Linked DNA regions of Homo sapiens. The protein of the gene in region 1 purifies or fractionates together with the protein of each later gene. This does not show direct contact. Each region holds a gene or a part of one and is shown on either strand. Other genes may lie near its edges. The genes, in order: UBE4B and UBL7.

Evidence for each region.
Region 2: the proteins of UBE4B (region 1) and UBL7 purify together in Homo sapiens (affinity purification with mass spectrometry; 5 studies listed by BioGRID and IntAct, with this or other methods). This does not show direct contact.

Annotation. Positions count from the first base shown.
Region 1 is NC_000001.11:10,125,131-10,135,226, reverse strand, and holds part of UBE4B (ubiquitin conjugation factor E4 B), read right to left. Parts: intron 8,434-10,096; coding exon 8,350-8,433; intron 5,836-8,349; coding exon 5,779-5,835; intron 4,728-5,778; coding exon 4,611-4,727; intron 4,513-4,610; coding exon 4,414-4,512; intron 2,859-4,413; coding exon 2,745-2,858; intron 240-2,744; coding exon 41-239; intron 1-40. UniProt on the Homo sapiens protein: Ubiquitin-protein ligase that probably functions as an E3 ligase in conjunction with specific E1 and E2 ligases. May also function as an E4 ligase mediating the assembly of polyubiquitin chains on substrates ubiquitinated by another E3 ubiquitin ligase.
Region 2 is NC_000015.10:74,456,952-74,467,694, forward strand, and holds the start of UBL7 (ubiquitin-like protein 7), read right to left. Parts: upstream 4,210-10,743; 5' UTR 4,086-4,209; exon of another isoform or gene 3,808-4,085; coding exon of another isoform or gene 3,717-3,807; intron 2,153-3,716; exon of another isoform or gene 2,068-2,152; intron 1,946-2,067; coding exon of another isoform or gene 1,917-1,945; coding exon 1,733-1,916; intron 1-1,732.

The DNA.
Region 1 (10,096 bases):
GGCAGTGTTTTAATGACCGAGTCACGAACACAGTACTCACAGAGTTCAGTCAGCCAGTCATTCACATCTTCCATCGTTGCATTCACACGCGTCTCATCATTGGGAAGAGTAATCCGACATCTTGGGTGAAAAATATACGTGGGATCAACTGTTTCTAACTTGATTTTTGTACTTAGCTGCTGCAGTACCCAAAGGAAATTCAGCATAAATCCATCTGTAGACACCAATCTATCATCTGTCTGTGAAAGTTGAAAAGAAAAAGTATTTTTAAACATTAAAAAAAATTTTTTTTGAGATGGGGTCTCACTCTGTTGCCCAGGCTGGAGCGAAGGGGTGTGATCTTGGCTGCAACCTCCACCTCCCAGGCTCAAGCAATCCTCCCACCTTAGCCTCCCAAGTAGCTGGGACCTAAAGTGATCCGCCCACCTCAGCTTCCCAAAGTGCTGGGATTACAGGTGTGAGCCACTGTGACCAGCCAAGAAAAAGTATTTAAAATAACATGAATAGAAATTTTGGCAAACTTTGTAAGAAAGCAGACTGAACTTTCAAACATAACTGTATCCTAAAGTCAATGAGAAGACATATATCTCATCACCACTGTCATTCCATTAATTCTATATTAGCAGGTGCTACTTGTTGAATACCGCCTATTATATAATTATTATTTATATAAGAGGCATTTTATACATTCTTTTCTTTTCTTTTCTTTTTTTTGAGATGGAGTTCCACTCTTGTTGCCCAGGCTAGAATGCAGTGGCACGATCCTCGCTCACTACAACCTCCGCCTCCCGGGTTCAAGTGATTCTCTTGCCTCAGCCTCCCGAGTAGCTGGGATTACAGGCACCCGCCACCACGCCCGGCAAATTTTTTGTATTTTTAGTAGAGATGGGGTTTCACCATATTGGCCAGGCTGGTCTCGAACTCCTGACCTCAGGTGATACGCCCGTCTCGGCCTCCCAAATTGCTGGGATTACAGGCATGAGCCACCACGCTTGGCCATTTTATACATTCTTTTACTGAACCATCACGATAATTCTTACAGGTCAGTAATACTGCTGTTAACATTTTATGCAGGAGGAAATAAAGACTCAGAGACCCTGAAGTGATTTGCCTGAGGCTCAAAATTAGTAAGTAGAAACACAATAAATGTTTCTTTCTTTCTTTCTTTTTTTTTTTTGAGACAGGGTTTTACTCTGTTGCCCAGGCTGTAGTGCAGTGGTGCAAACATAGCTCACTGCAGCCTCAACCTCCCGGGCTTAAGTGATCCTCCCACTTCAGCCTCCTGAATAACTGGGTCTACAGGTCTATGCCACTATACTGGCTAATTTTTTATTTTTTTTGTAGAGACAGGGTCTCCCTATGTTGCCCAGGCTGGTCTCGACCTCCCTGGCTCAAGTGATCCTCTTGCCTCAGCCTCCCAAGTAGCTGAAACTATAGGCATGCACCAGCCACCATGCCCAGATGACTTTTGTATATTTTGTAGAGATGGGGTCTCATTATGTCGCCAGGGCTGGTCTCAAATGCCTGGGCTCAAGTGATCCTCCCACCTCGGCCTCCCAAAGTGCTGAGATTACAGGCGTGAGCCACCATGCCCGGCCTCTTTCTCCTCTTTATTTCCCTCAAGAGCATCAAAACAAGTTGCTCCACTTCTTATCATGTGACATTGTTTCTCTAGGTGACAGCATCAGCATGCTCCTGCATTAGCAATATAACAATGTAACTTGATTACCTCTGTTAAGAAAAAAATAATAATACAACAATGATAAGAATGATAGTTAATATTGGTTGAGTGATCACTGTGTACCAGGCACCACTCTAACAGCTTTATATATAATAAACCCAGTACCAGTAGTACCGCAGCTTAGCAGATGAGGAAATGGAGGCACAGAGGAGTCACTGTCTAAGGTCCCGCAGTTAGTAAACGGTGGAACCACGATCAGAAATCACAAGATCTGTGCTCTTCTCTCTACATGATTTTTGCTTCTGAGTATACACATCACATCATTCATTCATTATTTATTACTAGTCAAGGAAGGATGCCCTTTTCTCCTCTGGCAAAGCAGCTGCAGCCACTGGCCTGTCTCACCCGGACCGAAGCACTCACGCCCTTGCAGCTGCCTTCTTGGGTCTGTTCCTGGCTGCCCCCTTGGGTCTGTTCCTGGCTGCCCCCTTCTGTTTTGGTCCGTCTACATAGCAGCTTTTGTGGTTTCCCTGCTGAAAACCCTCCCATGACAGTTCTGATCACGTAAACCTAACCCGATGGCGCCCTGCCTATCCACTAACTCCAGGACCCGACATTCCCTCCTGTTCACTCTTCTCCAGCCACAAAAGCCTGCGTGCTGGGCTTGTACCAAAGCTGCTTCGTTTCCACATTGGATAGCTCTTTTCTCAGCCACTACAATGGCTGGCTCCTTCCTATGAAACAAATGTCACCTCCTCAGGGAGGCCTTTCCTGCCACCCAATCAAAAATCACCTTCAGATCTTCCTTCTGGTACCTACAGTTCTTCTCATGTCATTTACTTTGCTCTATTTTCTTCACTGATTATACAACTGTCTAAAATCATGTATTTATATGTCTACTTGTTTATTCTGTGGAACATGGGCTCCACAAAAGCAGGAAGCTCGTCTACCTTGTTCAATACTGTACCCCCACTCCTAGAACAGTGCCTGGTAGGTGCTGACTAAATCTGGGTCAGATGAATGAATTTGACAAACAGCGAAAAGCAGTCTGTAGGAATCCTACCTGCATCTGTGCTTTCTTCATATTGGCATTGACGACAGCCGCCATGTAACTGAGAGCAGCCTCACGGGTTTCGCCATTTAACAAAATACTATGCAGAATCTTAAAAAGCTCTTGCTGAAATTTATTTTTAAAAAGAAGAAACAAATTAAAACTATTTTGCACATGATTCCTTTTTGACTTCACGAACAGCTAGCCTACTTCCCACGTTCTCTCCTCTCCCACTTCTACTCATTTTAGAAGAGCCTGAGTGAAAGAATATAAGAAATATCCACATCCAACTATGTCAAAGTAATGAGCATGAAAGCAGAATATGGAGTGGGGGAGGTAGGCAGTTACAGTTTTTTGTTTTTTTTTGAGACAGAGTCTAGCTCTGTTGCCAGGCTGGAGTGCAGTGGTGCAATCTCAGCTCACTGCAACCTGCGCCTCCCAGGTTCAAGCCATTCTCCTGCCTCAGCCTCCCGAGTAGTTGGGATTACAGGCACACGCCGCCACACCCAGCTAGTTTTTGCATTTTTGTTGTTTTTTTTTTTGAGACGGAGTTTTGCTCTTATTGCCCAGGCTAAAGTGCAGTGGCACATCTCGGCTCAGTGCAACCTCCGCCTCCCGGTTTCAAGCGATTCTCCTGCCTCAGCCTCCCAAGTCGCTGGGATTACAGGCACCCGCCACCATGCCCAGCTAATTTTTTTTGTATTTTAGTAGAGATGGGGTTTCACCATGTTGGTCAGGCTGGTCTCAAACTGCTGACCTCGTGATCCACCTGCCTTGGCCAATTTTTGTATTTTTAGCAGTGACGAGGTTTCACCATGTTGGCCAGGATGACTTCCTGACCTCGTGATCAGCCCATCTCAGCCTCCCAAAGTGTTGGGATTACAGGCATTAGCCAACACGCCCAGCCGGCAGTTACAGTTTTAATAAAATAGGCTTTGTTACTTCTTTCCCATGATCAAAATTACCTTAGTTACCCAAGCCTGTAACTTCTTTGCCTGTTTCTTTTTTTTGAGATGGAGTCTTGCTCTGTCGCCCAGGCTGATGTGCAGTGGCGTGATCTTGGCTCACTGCAACCTCCACCTCCTGGGTTCAAGTGATCCTTGTGCCTCAGCCTCCCGAGTAGCTAGGTAGCTGGGATTACAGGCACGCGCTGCCATGCCTGGCTAATTTTTGTATTTTTAGTAGAGACGGGGTTTCGTCATGTTGGCCAGGCTGTTCTCAAACTCCTGACCTCAGGTGATCCACCCCACTCGGCCTCCCAAAGTGTTGGGATTACAGGCATGAGCCATCACACCCGGCCCTTCTCTGCCTTTAAGTTTGAGAATTGAAGACATATTAATCTGCATTTGGGATAAGCAAGTCAGTGAGGGTGTGTGCAAACTAACAATCCTTGCTCACCCTCACAGTGTAAATGCCTAAGGGCCAGCTGGAGGAGGAGCCGGGCCACTAAGCTTAGGACCAGTTCCCAGTGATGCTACATACAAAGGCAGCATACTGCTGTTGTTACAACCTGTTATTCAAGACACAGGCTACTTACTTATAGTTTATCTTTTTTATGTAAGATCGAATTGGCTTTTGTTAGCCGTTTGTCTACTGGGCATAGTCCAGTCTACAAAATAAAAGCTCTGTATCTGGAGCTCATCTTTGATACTTCCTCTGGATTTGTTTTCTGAACACTTACCCTTCCGAGCTCTAAGTAATGCTGCAATGATTGGCTAACCACACGAGTGTTTTCCAGGGTAATGGCAGGCCCTGAGAAGTATTTTTCAACCACTTTAACCTGGAAAGAGAAGGAAAAAATGCAGTCAACATATAATGCACATTTGGGAAAGAATCTGAATAAAAGGGCAGCAAAGTACAAGTAGCCACTATACTTACATCATCTTCTGCAAAGACTGAGAAGCTAAAGAAAGCCCCTAAGTAAGAGAGTCTCTGCAGCTCCCGCCCACAGCCAGGACTTAAGGATTTCGGCAACCACAACCGCAAAGAAGCAACCTAGGCAGAAGATGGAAGAGCCAGTCAAGCCGCTGAACAGGCCGGTGGGGTAAAAATGTAATGAAAACTCTCCAGCTCCTCTGTATTTTCACAAGATATTATTAAAACTTTTATGTTTCAGCCAGGCATGGTGGCTCACGCCTGTAATCCCAGCACTTTGGGAGGCCAGTGTGGGTGGGGGTGGGTCACCTGAGGTCAGGAGTCCGAGACAACCCTGGCCAACATGGAGAAACCCCGTCTCTACTAAAAATACAAAAATTAGCCGGGCGTGGTGGTGTGCGCCTGTAATCCCAGCTACTGGGGAGGCTGAGGCCAAGAGAATCGCTTGAACCCAGGAGGCAGAGGTTGCAGTGAGCTGAGATTGCGCCACTGCGCTCCAGCCTGGGTGACAGAGTGAGACTCTGTCTCAAAAAAAAGAATGTTTAAGTTTCAGGATACTATTGGATGAAGTTCAAATGAACTCTTCTTATACCACCAAAGGACTCGAATAACTTTTCCATACCTCTTGTTAGTTTAGTTGTACAATACTTGTCAAGGGAAAAAAAACAGGCCCGGTGCGGTGGCTCACGCCTGTAACCCAACACTTTGGGAGGCTGAGGCGGGTGGATCACCTGAGGTCAGTAGTTCGAGACCAGCCTGGCCAACATGGTAAAACTCCATCTCTACTAAAAATACAAAAAAATTAGCCTCGCATGGTAATGCATGCCTGTATTCCCAGCTACTTGGGAGGCTGAGGCACGAGACTCACTTGAACCCAGGAGGCGTAGGCTGCAGTGTGCCAAGATCCCACCACTGCACTCCATCCAGCCTGGGTGACAGAGTGAGATTCTTAGAAAAAAAAGGGAAAAAAATCATAGAAATGAACAACTGTAATGCAGGATATAACGTGTCTAACAAAAATGTAACAGTTGAGAGCCTCCCAGACACGTTACCTCCGCCTACACCTAAATGTCCTTCAAGAGACATTTTCCAGGCCATCTCACTAGAGGAATGCCTTCTGGGTTATGATATATTCACTGAAAATGTGCAAGCCCATCAGGTGAGTGCTTACCAAATTGCACACAGGGTGTGTCTTCCCAAACTTGGTTTCACAGAGCTCACCTAGTGCCTAGAAATAAGATCAGAGTCATTTAAATGCATTTCATCTTAAACTGACTGTCATTTGTAGCATAAAGAAACAGTTTTAACTGCTGCTATAAATTCGTTCCCTCTAAAATGGCACACATGCATTCCCTCTGAAATGGCAGCAGCTTCACTACTTTTTCTGATTAATAAACTAAAACACATGCAATGTGAAAACTTGAAATAAAACAGAAATATAAAATGAAACTAAAAATTACTCAAGCTTTACCCTCAAAGATAACCTCTATTGATATTTTGAGCAACAGTTTTCAGATATATTTTTGTGTACTGTATCTATATATGTTTTTTACAAAAAAGTTTTTCCACTTCATATCTTTCCATGTCAAAAAGATTTATTTCATAAACTTTAGATGGCTCCTCTTGCCAGTGTTAAACATGACTATAAATAATTACAATTTAATAAGCTATCAAATTCAAAACATATTTAAAAACATAACTTGGTTTCAAGATTTCTAGTACTTTTAAGAATTCCAACACTTTCCTTCAGACATCCAACCATCCTAACATTAGAGAACGATGAAAAACACTTTTTAGGGACATAAACATAATTTAGCATGCCCATGGTAACTCAATCAAACATTATTTTCAACAGTTAATTTCCTCTGTGATTCGGACGCAGCTCTAGAAGTTGCTACATGAGCCGAAGAGTGCATTTAGGCATTGACACAACGTTGAGATGCCTTTGAGGTTCAGGCAGCCTCAACTCAGAAGGAAGCGTTCTCACTGCCTAGTGCAGGAGTTCACAAACGTGGCTGCATATTAGGATCACATGGGAAGCCTTTGGAAACCCCAATGCCATGCCACACCCCTGGTGAATTAAATCACAAGGTCTGGGGTGGGGAGCCAGGCAGAAACACCTTTAAAGATCCCCAGCTGATTCCAAGGTGATTCCAACGTATGGCACAGCAGGATCCACTGACCTAGAGAATGATCACAATGATTTCTGATTTTAGCTTCAACAGTCTTCCGCTTCCTGCCTCTCATTATTGTACCCTCTCACTCACTGTGTCCTCGTTATTATGCAAGCATCAATAATGGCACAAAATGAAATCACTGTCTACCACAATGGAGGCCTCTGTCTTTTGAACAAAAGGACATTTTGGTGATATCAGATGCTAAAAGCTCCTCACTGAAACATCAAGCTAATTCACACCACAACCCAAAAGCCAACAGTCCCATGAAGGAACATCTACATAATATGGTGATAATTAGTGTTCACTAAAATATTTCATCACTGAACTCAAACAATCAGATTATTCCACTTCCTTTTATCTGCCACAGGGAGAACAATACATAAGGATTCAAATAATTTTACCAGGAGCCCCAATAACATGTACAATGGAAAGAGCTCTGGCATAAATCCACTTAAAATTATTTTTTAAAGTAGGAATTCTGGTTTCACCTTCTAATTTCCCAGCATTCTTGTAGCCTTTTAGTGCCATGACAGGTTTGAATTTTTTAAATAGATAAATACACCCTTTGTGTACAGCTCTGTTTTAACATTTATCACAGTATCTGTTCAACTGTTGCGCTGTAGCTCTTATTTTTGCAGTAGATTATGAGTGCCTTGAGGAGAGGGACCTTGTCTTCCTAGCTTCTGTATCACCAGTGTCTAGCACAGAACAGATCGTCAGTAATGAATTCATGGTATAATGGAATCCAATCAGTGGAATAAGTAAAAGAAATAAATACAGTAAGAAAAACAACCATGGTCTCAATTTACATAAGACTTAATTTATACATAGAATAAACTAATTTCATTTTGATATTTTTTCCTTTACACTTCTGCAACGAAAATATTCAGTAACACTTCAAAATACTTTTCTCCCAAAATTTCAAATAAGCGAATTCAGAACAGAAAGGAGCTTCTAATTTTCATTCTAGTTTCAGCATTTTCACAACATTCAAGCCTCCCCATGGGAATCTAGCTGAAGCTTCTGTCCACAATGTATGCCTGCTCTAAGTGCGTTAAAGAGCTAAGCAGATTTCTACTTCCCAAGTAAATATGACCTTAGGAAACAGGGAGGGTGAACAAGAGAGCTACACTGAGATTTTCTGCACAAAGTAAACACATAAAGATAAAATTGTATTCATTTTCTTAGTATGTACAGCTTTGCCTTTTTTATTTGCATTTTTAATAGGTTTTTTTTTTTTAAGTAACAAAATTTCATCCCAACTATGGTATGCTCATTGCTAGGAGATAAGTTATCTTTTTCATAAGCTATACAAAGTACATTGTAATAAGTGCATTTAACTCCTGTCTAGGACTTGGATAGGTGGAAGATGTACCAGGCTGCTAACTGTCTTCACTGATGCATCTCACTGCACACCAAACACTCTGCATGGCCAACACAGTGATTTCATGTTTTAAATTTGAAAACAAGGTTGATCTCATGGACCTGAAAGAAAAGTATATGTCAAAATAATCTGAAAGAAAAACATCTATTGAATGAGTTAAAGAAAAAGAACAAAGTTTTACCATGAGGGGGTATTTAAAGTAGTCACTGTCGAGGGAGCACTCTTTGGCAGCAAGAGCCAGGCCTTGTAAAATGGGGATAAATATCTATAAGAAAAAAAACAAAATCAGAAATATAAGTTTAAGAGAATCTAAGAGTGGGAAGTATGTCAAATAAGGTGCTAGAACTGAATGTCCAAATTTCATTCCTTCCCCAGGGAAAAGCTTTTTTGCATATAAAAGTCTAGAATTCAGCCAGAGTGTTGACCTGTTCTTTGACAAGTCTAACCATAAAGTAATACAGCTGAATTCTCCAGAAGTAAGAGGAGTTTGGTGAACTCTAATACTCTGACAGGACCCCCAGTAATTCAACAAAACCCAGTAATTCAACAAAACCCATACATTTGGAGCCTGTTGAAGAACTCTCCAGGAGTCGTTGCTCTACTCAATTAAATTCTGCACATCTCAGCAACTAATATGTTCTTGATTACCAAGCATCTATAACCTGTTAAAAAATTCAATTAAATGTTCCAATATTTCCTCCTTTCTATCTATCTATCTATCTATCTATCTATCTATCTATCTATCTATCTATCTATATTGAGACGGAGTCTCGCTCTGTCACCCAGACTGGAGTGCAATGGCACAGTCTTGGCTCACTGCAACCTGTGCCTCTGGGGTTCAAGTGATTCTCCTGCCTCAGCCTCCCGAGCCAGCTGGGATTACAGGCATGTGCCACCACACCTGGCTAATTTTTGTATTTTTAGTAGAGACGGGGTTTCACTTTGTTGGCCACGCTGGTTTCGAACTCCTGACCTCGTGATCCACCCGCCTCAGCCTCCCAAAGTGCTGGGATCACAGGCATGAGCTACCGCGCTTGGCCCTCTATCAATATTTTTTAAAAGCTTTTCCCCATTTATTTTGAGGAAAACAAGATAAACAGGCCAACAATCAACATTATTACTACATTAAACTTAAATTAGAGCAAAGAGCTAGTTGGTAAATGTTGAAATTTACAAAGAAAGCTTTAGTTAGAAAGCCTTACCTCCACATATAGTGTAATTAATACATTAACCTGCTATTGGCACTTAAAGGAACTCAAATCTGCTTTTATACATTTATGATTAATACCAGGTAACACCATGTAAGATTTACTCAGCCTAGCTCATCTTCAAATTTCACAATGCAAGCACTGATCAACACATTTAGGGAGTTGGTTGGGATTCAAGGCTAATAACATTAAATAGAAATGTTGTAAACAACAGCTGACAATCTGAATGCCAACAAGTTGTAATAGGAGTATACTATGTAGCCACTAGAAAACTTGAAAAATTCCCTTTCCTACTAATTTCATTCCATGAGCACCTTAATAATTTAAAGAGCACAGTATAAAACACAGGTGCCCTGGATGACAAAGTGTCCGTGGAGTGTTGTGAGATATCAATACAGCTCTGGAAGAGATCATTCTATGGTTTCTGCAATACCAACAATCAAGGTAGATGTAACTTGCTCTCATATGCCAGATAAAAATGGAGAAGTAACACTCAGGTGTGGAGCTGGGGAATGCCAACATTGTAATGAGGAAGAAAAGACAAACAGAGGTTCCAGAATCACCAAAAATTAGTTCATAACTGGTTGTCCTGAAAAATCTCCAAATTTTTTTAGGGAGGCTACAAGTAAAATATAATTACACTTTCTTGTATAGTTATCCTTTTGTGCATTGCACAGGTAAAATATTACTAAGCATAATCTTTTTCTTTTTCTTTTTCTT
Region 2 (10,743 bases), on another chromosome or scaffold:
GGCACATGCCACCACACCCAGCTAATTTTTGTAGTTTTTTGTAGAGACGGGGTTTTGCCATGTTGCCTAGACTAGTCTCTTAACTCCTGGGCTCAAGGGATCCTCCTGCCTTAGCCTCACAAAGTGCTGGGATGACAGGCGTGAACCACCATGCCTAGCCAATTAAATACATTTCAACAACTATTTGCAAATATAAACTCATAAAATGGACTTACATCGAATCTGGCCAGATGTGGTGGCTCACACCTATAAACCCAGCACTTTTGGAGCCTGGCCGACATGGCGAAACCTGGGCCATGGCGAAAATTAGGGCCGGGCACGGTGGCTCACACCTGTAATCCCAACACTTTGGGAGGCCGAGGTGGGTGGATCACCTGAGGTCAGGAGTTCAAGGCCAGCCTGGCCAAGATGGTAAACCTCGTCTCTACCAAAAATACAAAAATTAGCCAGGCATGGTGGCAGACGCCTGTAATCCCTGCTACTCAGGAGGCTGAAGCAGGAGAATTGCTTGAACCCAGGAGGCGGAGGTTGCAGTGAGCCAAGATCACACCACTGCACTCCAGCCTGGGCAACAGAGCAAGACTCTGTCTCAAAAAAAAAGAAATATATATATATATACACACATACACACAAAAATTAGCCAGTTGTGGTTGTGCGGGCCTGTAATCCCAGTTATTCAGGAGGCTGAGGCAGGAAAATTGCCTGAACCTGGGAGACAGAGGTTACAATGAGCTGAGATCTCGCCACTGCACTCCAGCCTGGGCAACAGAGCAAGACTCCGTCTCAAAAAAAAAAAAAAAAAAAAAGGATTCACACAGAATCTATCCACAGAAAAACTCTGGAGTTTAACATTGTGGAGGCTGCCCAATTTAAATCAATGGAAAAACAACAAAATAGGATGAACCCAATCCAGGTATGACTGAAAACATCTTTCTTGCCAGTTGGATCCTTTAGCTATTAAAAATTACCTTTTCAGTGTAATTTAATTATATTTAAATTCCTCCCTCCTCCACCTGGACTGCCCACGCCACTTTTTCTTTTTTACTGCCTTTCCTTTACTCAGTCAACCAAGCAAAAATCCTTCTAATCATCCCTGAAGACCTACCTCAAATATACTGAGGAGCCTCCCCTGACCAACTTCTCCTTTCCTAACTCATCCCAAACTTCTGTTCTTTCAGAAAAAGAATTCACAATGTTGGCCAGGAGCGGTGGCTCATGCCTGTAATCCCAGCATTTTGGGAGGCTGAGGCGGGCAGAATCACAAGGTTAGGAGTTCAAGACCAGCCTGGCCAACATGGTGAAATCCCATGTCTCTACTAAAAATACAAAAATTAGCTGGGCATGGTGGTGTGTGCCTGTAATCCCAGCTACTCGGGAGGCTGAGGCAGAATTGCTTGAACTGGGACCCAGGAGACAGAGGTTGCAGTGAGCCGAGATCGCACCACTGCACTCCAGCCTGGGCTACACAGCAAAACAAAAACAAAAACAAAAAACAAGACAATGTCATAAAGAACCTGGTGATAAGGTAGTTCAGTATAATACATGGCTGAAATGGCAACCAATAGTTTCATTATATGATTTGTGTTTCTATTTACCCAACATTCACTTCCCTGGAGTGTTAACATTATGAGGCAACAAATCCCAAGCCCTTACTTTACTCTTGTAATTCCAGAAGTATCCTCCCCCAAAAGAGATCAGAGCAGCAGCCCAACCCCAGTCCAGAGAGACTCACCAATCAGCTCAGGGTCTGGAACAGACTCCTGGAGTTTGCCAGCAATAAGCTGCTTCAGAAATGAAATACTATAGCCCCCTAGCGAGTATTCTCCCAGTTCTGTCTCTGGCAACCGAAGAATAGACTTTGGAGTAAGTGGCTGGTCAGCCAGCTTCACCGCCAGGTGCCAGTCTGAGAGAGACATCCTCTCTCTTTCGCGCTCTCTCTTTCTCCCTGTAAAAGAACAAAACCTCAGTGGTTAAAAGACAGACCACCACTCTACTCCACCCCCACCCACCAAAGGGTTGAATGAAAGACAATTCAATGTGACACTGTTGAAGAGGCATAGGGCGTACCATCAGGAGGCCAGAACTAGAATCTGGGGTTCTCTCTCTACTCATACTGTGATGGACAGCTCTCTAGGCCTCAGTTTCTTCATCCCTAACGTGGACATAAAAACGCCATCCAATCTAATAGGAATGTTGTGAGAGAGATCATCTAACCCTCTCCCTTCTGTATGCCCCTTTTTCCAATTTTCTTCAACTGTTGCTTGAACCAGTAGAACAGCTTTATAACAAGTTCCCTGCCTCTTGCCTCTCCCTATCAAATATCTATGCTGCCACCTAACAACACCCATCATTTTTTTTTTTTTTTTTGAGACGGAGTCTCGCTCTGTTGCCCAGGCTGGAGTGCAGCGGCGCGATCTCGGCTCACTGCAAGCTCCACCTCCCAGGTTCACGCCATTCTCCTGCCTTCCTGCCTCAGCCTCCCAGGTAGCAGGGACTACAGGCACCCGCCACGACGCCAGGCTAATTTTTTTTTTTTTTTGTACTTTTAGTAGAGACGGGGTTTCACTGTGTTAGCCAGGATGGTCTCGATCTCCTGACCTCGTGATCCACCTGCCTCGGCCTCCCAAAGTGCTGGGATTACAGGCATGAGCGACTGCGCCTGGCCACAACCCATCATTCTAAAACACAGATCTGACCAAGTCACTTCTCTGCTTAGAACTCTTCCAATGTCGGGCTGGGCGCGGTGGCTCATGCCTGTAACCCTAGCACTTTGAGAGGCCTAGGCGGGCGGATTGCCTAAGCTCAAGAGTTCAAGACCAGCCTGGCCAACATGGTGAAACCCGTCACTACTAAAAATACAAAAATTAGCTGGGCGTGGTAGTGCGCACCTGTAGTGCCACCTACTCGGAAGGCTGAGGTTGCAGTGAGCCAAGATCACGTCACTGCACTCCAGCCTGGGTGACAGAGAGAGACTCTGTCGCAAAAAAAAAAAAAAAAAAAAAAAAAAAAGCCAGACGCGGTGGCTCACACCTGTAATCCTGTCACTTTGGGAGGCCGCGGAGGACGGATCACTTAAGATCAGGTGTTTGAAACCAGCCTGGCCAACATGGTGAAACTACATCTCTACTATAATAGAAAAAATTTGCAGGGCGTGGTGGCAGGCGCTTGTAATCCCAGCTACTTGAGAGGCTGAGGCAGGAGAATTGCTTGAACCCGGGAGGTGGAGGTTGCAGTGAGCCGAGATAGCGCCACTGCACTCCAGCTTGGGCGACAGAGACTCCGTCCCTCCCTGCCCCACCCCGGCCCCCCAGAAAAAGACCTCTTCCAATACCTCTAAACCATCTATATAAATTAAGTCTAAACTTCATCGCCTGGCTTACAAAACTCCCTGCCAGCCTCATTCCCCAACAGAGCCCTACCCCTGCAAAGGACCTCCACAACATGTAAGTACACACTCATAACAAAGCTCTCCCCTATTTTACACCTCTGCTCATCTAACTCTGCATGTAATTTCTCTTCCCTTTTTGGCCTTTTAGCAAACTCCTACCGAAACCAACACAGATTCAATAACCTCAGTCCCCTCTCTTTCCTCTGTTGTTCCCACATCCCCTCAGAACAAAAGGGCTACAAATATCTGCTTGCCCCCTCCTCCACCCCAATTCTTGAATGCCCTTGAAAACAAAAGACTAAAGTTTTCTTCATCCTTGTCCCCATACCTGGCATACATGGAACCCCAGAAAATAAATCAGAAACTCTGACGGCGGAAGAATCTTGCAAAGCAAGATAAGTTCTTGTTATAGTCATCATTATTGCTTCCAAAGAGACCTCTGATAGAGAAGAGGAAAGAAAAGGCTGTGAAGCTGCCTAGCAGACCTTCAAGCATCCTCAAGGTATCTTCCACCTCAAGTTTATGCCAGAAGGAGGTCGTTTTATATACCATGTCTCACTTAATCCTCACAACGGTTCCCTAAGGCAGGCATTAGCCACATTTTAAAGATGAGGGAAGCAAGACTCAGTAAAATCACTGGCCCAAGGTCACAGATCGCTAGTAATGGGGCAGGAACACTATCCGGTGGCGACCTCACCGCTCCAGTGGGACCAGCTACTTGGCTGACACACATCGAGCCCGCGCTGCCCAGGGCCCCAGCGCCCTCACCCGTCCCGCGGAAGGAACCCGGCCGCACTGCCGCCGGTGTAAACACTCACTCTGGCCCTCTCGCCGGAAACCGGAAATTCCGCGCTGCATTCTGGGAGTTGCAGTTCCCGCTGTGGCCCCCCGCCCCCTTATAAACAGCCAGTCTACAAGAGGCGCTAGTTGCAAAGCTTCCGGTTCTGGGGGAAGGCGTGGCTTCCGCGCTCTTTGAAATGTCCGGCGCCGGAATGTCTGGGTGCTTTGGTTGGAGAGGGTCCCATTTCCAGTCATTCTTCAGCCTGGTGATTCCCGCGCTCCCCTGAGGAGCATATGAAGTACGTCGGTTCTGCCAGGTTGGAACGCGCTGCTGGACACTCGGCCGTAAGGCGGATCCCGGATCCCCTCCCACTCCGACCCTTCCCTCCAGAAGGGCCGGTTCCCAAACGGCCCCTTTAGACACATCCAAGCGGTTGCCGACGGCCCTCACGATGAAAACTGCTGTCCGTTGGTGAAGGCAGCCTCTTCTGTGCTCCTCGCCGCTGACTTCCTGAGGCGGACCTACCTGTGGAGGCATACCAGGAACCAGACGATGACCCCCTCCAAAAGTTGGGTCTTTGAGGAGAGCTACTAACTTGGGTTCCTGGTACACCCTCTACATGCAGTGGTGAAGCTTATCTAACAGTCATTCATAGAATCAGTTTGGGAAGGGGAATTTTCACTGAACTCTCATAGAGAAACTGTGTTTTAGATAACAGAAAGTTCTGCACGGTTAAAATGGAACAGAAATTTTTTTGCACAGAAATTAGGATTACCGAAAATACTGAAGAAAGACTACCTCTGATTGGACTCTTCTCAAGGAATTAATAATTCAAGAACTAAGGAAAGAAAAAAGTGATTATATGAAAATACTGAAGTTGATCGTAGCAGCTGAAGGCTGATCCTGTGTGGGTAAATGTAAACGCTGAATTCCCACATTCCAATGTGCGACCTGGGATTAAGGCAGCAATTGAGCAGGGTAATGTTACTGAGGAGAGCGAACAGATCGCAGGATCTCAGAAGGCCTAACATTAAAGGCAGATCACCCCTCTGTTCTCATAAGTTATATGGGGAGTTTTGAAATGGCTTTCACTGTCTTCAGGGAGTTTATCTTCAGGATAACTCCCATGTATGTTGTGGGCGCATTAGGAACCCATGGCTGTTCCCAAAGTCTCCCTTTCCCATCCTACCCATTTTTAGATATACCCCCTCTTTCAGTAATCCTTCCTAACTAGACTTCTTTAGACTCCTTCCTCTCCTGCCTACTAAGTTACTTGCACCTGAGCTCCATAATTTATCAAAATTATATATTGTGAATACTTTCCCAGTTCATGATTTTTTTTTTACTCTTAATGGTATTAGATAATTTAATTTCATTTTAAAACTTTTTTTTTTTTTTGAGACGGAGTCTTGCTCTGTCGCCCAGATTGGAGTGCAGTAGTGGCCGATCTCGGCTCACTGCACCCTCCGCCTCCCGGGTTCAAGAGATTCTCATGCCTCAGCCTCTTGAGGAGCTGGGGCTACAGGTACCTGCCACCACGCCCGGCTAATTTTTGTATTTTTAGTAGAGACGGGGTTTCACCACGTTGGCCAGGCTGCTCGAACTCCTGACCTCAGGTGATCCCAAAGTGCTGGGATTACAAGCGGTAGCCACCACGCCCGGCCTGAAATTTTGTTGTGATGGTTAGTGCCTTTTGTGTCCTATGTAAGAAATCTTTGCCTGCCCTCGTTATGAAGATACTATCCTAGGTTTTCTTCTGTGTTATTTTATCTTTCACATTTAGGTCTATGATTAATTTCACATTAATCTTTGTATATGATAGGAGTTAGACATCAAGATTCATCTCTTCCATATGGGTGTACAATTGATCCAGCACTATTTAAAAATTTTGTTCCCACTGAATTTCAGTGGCAGCTTTGTCATAAATCCGGTGACTATGTATGTCTGGGTCAATTTTTGACTCTTATTCTGTGCCATGGGTGTATTTTTCTGTCATTGTGCCAATGTCACACGTCTTGATTTCTCTAACTTTAGAGTAGGTCTTGATATCTGCTAGCCTTTTGGCTTTAAGAGGGGCATGGCTATTCTATCACCAATAGATGACAATTGTTAACTTTGTTTTATGCTTCTAAAAGTATAATTTTACTGAATCTTAAATATGTATATTCAACAAAATTTAGATTACACTGTACATTTGTTTAGTAATCTACATATTTTACCTAGCTTGAATATTTCCCCTGTGCTCAAATATTCTTGAGACTTTTTACTTTGAAATAATTTCAAGTTTACAGTACAGTTGCAAAAATATTACAAAATAATGCCCTCATACCCTTAACCCAAAGTCCCCAGTTGTTAATAGTTTACATTTACCTCATCATTCTTTCTCTCTCACTCTCTCACTATGCATATTGTTCTTTTGTTTTTCCACCCGATCCGTTTAAGAGCCAATTACAGACATTACCCAAAGTATTTCTGTATTTCCTGAAAACAAGGATATATTCTATGTCACAGCCACAGTACAACCCAGCAAAATCAAGAAATTAATAAATACAATAATACCATGTAACTTACAATCTCATTCAGCTTTCATCAACCATTCCAGTTGGGTGGAGGCTGATCATCTCTCTGCCATTTTCATAAGTTATGTCATAGATTTTCACATCTGTCACATCATTCATTTCTCCAAAGAGCCTTAGTTCCTTTTAGTAAGGAATGGTATTTAGAAGCCAAGTTTGGATGCTAGGTGTGTTTATTGCTACTGAGATGTCATTATTTCCAGTCTATTTCAGTGACTAGACCTAGCAAATAAATGAATATTGATATACACACCCATTCATCTATATTTCTATGAAATATATTTAAATATGTGTGCATATAGATGTGTATATGTATATATAGATCTATGTATATGTGAGCATATATATGTGCACATATATCAAAATATATATGTATATATAAAATATGAGTTCACACCAATACCTCAAATTCCAATCCAATACCACATATTTTCCTCTAGTCTTCCTCTTCTCTATAATTTTACCTCCCTTCTGCAATAGTAGGAAACTTGATTCTCATTTTCCACAATATACTTGTATTTTCTCATGTTGACATTCATGGTACCTGATATGGTTTGGCTCTGTGTCCCCACCCAAATCTCATGTTGAATTGTAATCCTCAATGTTGGAGGAGGGGCCTGGTGGGAGGTCATGATGTTTGGATCATGGGGCAGACTTCCCCCTTGCTGTTCTCATGACAGTGAGTTCTCAAGAGATCTGGTTGTTCAAAAGTGTGTAGCACTTCCCCCTTTGCCCTCTCTCTCCTGCTCTGCCATGTGAAGATGTGCTTGCTTCCCCTTCACGTTCTGCCATGATTGTATGTTTCCTGTGGCTTCCCCAGCCATGCTTCCTGTATAGCCTGCAGAACTGTGCGTCAATTAAAGCACTTTTCTTTATAAATCACCTGGTCTCAGGTAGTTCTTTATAGCAGTGCAAGAACAGACTAATACAGTACCATAACAATGGAGCCTCCTCTTCAACTTGATTCTTGAGTCCTTTTGACATAACCCTGGAGGTTTTTGATAGCTCCCTGCTATCTAGCATGACAAGAGTTCCTAGCTAATCTTGTACTTCCTGCCCTAGGCATAAAAATTAGCCATTTCTTCAAGAAATTCATATGGTTTTCTGTGGGAAATGGTATATTAAGACCACAATCTGGGCACTAGGGATGCTTATTGCTACTGAATTGTTTGTTACTTGTAAGCCACATTAGTGGATGGAGCTAGGGGGAGATCTATATCCATAGAGATATAAATAGAGAATATTTATACTGCTACTTCAAATTCAAGACTACAGAGGTTGGGTTTGGTTTTGGCTTTTGGTTTTATGGGTTGCTTTTTGTTTTGTTTTTTTTGAGACAGGATCTCCCTCTGTTGCCCAGGCTGGAGTACAGAGGTGCAATCATGACTCACTGCTGCCTCAAACTCCCAGGCTCAAGCGATTCTCCCACCTCAGCCTGCCAAGTAGCTGGGACTACAGTTGTGCACCACCATGCCCAGCTAATTTGTGTATTTTCTGTGGAGGCAGGGTTTCACCATGTTGCCCAGGCCGGTCTTGAATTACTGGACTCAAGCAATCTGCCCACCTCAGCCTCCCAAAGTAAGACTGCAGAATTTTAATTTAATATTTTCTATATTACATCTTTATTTCCTTTCTTCCACACTGAGAATACTAGTTCTCAAGAACATAAGGGACAACAGTATTTAAATATCTATTTTCATTTCCTTTATCCCATATCACATACCCAACTGTCTCAAAATAACAATACTAATGATACTATCACCACCAATATAATTATTGAGACGTTTAAAAAAATGTTTGCATATGCCCTTCTCATTCTATCCCCTCCATTCATTCTCTCCATTTTAACAGATGTGCTGTATATTATCTGAGCCTATACTCATTACTCTACCTTCCTCTTTTTAACTCTCTTAATACTACAAAGAATTCCATGTTTAGGCCAGGTGCGGCAGCGCACACCTGTAATCCCAGCACTTTGGGAGGCTGAGACAGGCAGATCACCTGAGGTCAGGAGTTTGAGACCAGCCTGGCCAACATAGTGAAACCCTTCTCTACTAAAAATACAAAAATTAGTGGGGGTGTGCTGGCGGGCACTGTAATCTCAGCTACTTGGGAGCTTGAGGCAGGAGAATTGCTTGAACCCAGGAAGTGGAGGTTGCAGTGAGCCGAGATCACACCATTGCACTCCAGCCTGGGCGACAAGAGTGAAACTCCATCTCAAAAATAAATAAATAAATAAAATCAGAATTCCATGTTTAATGCTTTCCACTGGTTTTTGTTGCTGTTGTTGTTGTTGTTTTGTTTTGTTTTCTGACACAGAGTCTCACTGTATCACCCAGGCTGAAGTACATTGGTGCAATCTTGGCTCACTGCATCTCCACCCCAGGTTCAAGCGATTCTCCTGCCTCAGCCTCCCAAGCAGCTGGGATTACAGGTATGTAGCACAATGCCCGGCTAATTTTTGTATTTTTAATAGAGACAGAGTTTCACCGTGTTGGCTAGGCTGGTCTCAAACTCCTGGCCTCAAGTGATTCACCCGCCTTGGCCTCCCAAAATGTTGGGATTACAAGCATGAGCCACTGTGCCTGGCCCAGTGGTTTTTATTACTGAACCCGTTCTTTAGTGGATTTCCTGGAAGGACTACAATATTCTCTGTGAATGATATTCCCTAAACTTTTGCATATTAATAGCAGTTTATTTCTGGCCTTTATGCTTGAAAATCAGTTTGCTAAATATAAAATTGTTGGCTCACATTTTCTTTCTTAAGATATTTCATTTTCATCTGATGACAGAAATCTAATTTTCTTTCCCTTACAAGTTACTTGCTCTTTTCACCAGGTTGCCCAAGTAGTTTTTAAAATTTTTTGTTTAATTTCCAGTCATTTTACCTGACTACATCTTGGTGCTGTTTGTTTTAGGTCAGTAGTCTCAGTTATGTGGTATTCTCTTCCAAAATGTAATTTATATTTTTTTTATTTCAGTAAAGATTGATTTTTGAATTACAGGTTTTAGAATAGTTCCGTTCTCTTGCCTTGGTTTGGTTCTTAAGAGGACTCATGTTAGCCATATGTTGTATCTTTGTTGTTTCTCTTCAATATCTGCCACTTTTCTCAAATCTTTTCTCTTTCTTCATTTTTAAAAATATTTTTTAAATGTTCCTCCTTTCTACATTCTACTTAAGGCATCATCTGTTGTATTTATTTCTTCTGTGTTCCTTTTGCTTTAGTCTTCATTTTGTATTTATTTTTTATTTTTTATTTTTTGAGACAGAATTTCGCTCTGTCGCCCAGGCTGAAGTGCAGTTGCGTGATCTCTGCTCACCACAACCTCCACCTCCCGGGTTCAAGCAATTCTCCTGCCTCAGCCTCCCAAGTAGGTGGGATTATAGGTGCCTGCCACAGTGCCCGGCTAATTTTTATATTTGTTAGTAGAGATGAGGTTTCACCATGTTGGCCAGGCTGGTCTCAAACTCCTGACCTCAGGTGATCCACCTGTCTCAGCCTCCCAAAGTGCTGGGATTACAGGCATGAGCCACTGTGCTTGGCCTATTTTTTTTCTTTTATTTATAAGTTTCTTTCCTGAGTTCTGTCACCTCATTTCTGAGTTCTCCAAGTTCTTTTTGATGTTGTGTTTTCATATATCATTTTCTTTCTTTTTTTTTTTTTCTGAGATGGAGTCTCATTCTGTTGCCCAGGCTGGAGTGCAGTGGCACGATCTCAGCTTACTGCAACCTCTGCCTCCTGAGTTCAAGCGATTCTCCTGTCTCAGCCTCCCAAGTAGCTGGGATTACAGGCGGGCATCACCACACTCAGCTAATTTTTGAATTTTTACTAGAGATGGGGTTTCACCATGTTGACCAGGCTGGTATCAAACTCCTGGCCTCAAGTGATCCACCCACCTCAGCCTCCCAAAGTGCTGGGATTATAAACGTGAACCACTGCACCTGGCCATATCATTTTCTTAATACATTTCAGTTTATTTTGAAAATAGATGATTAT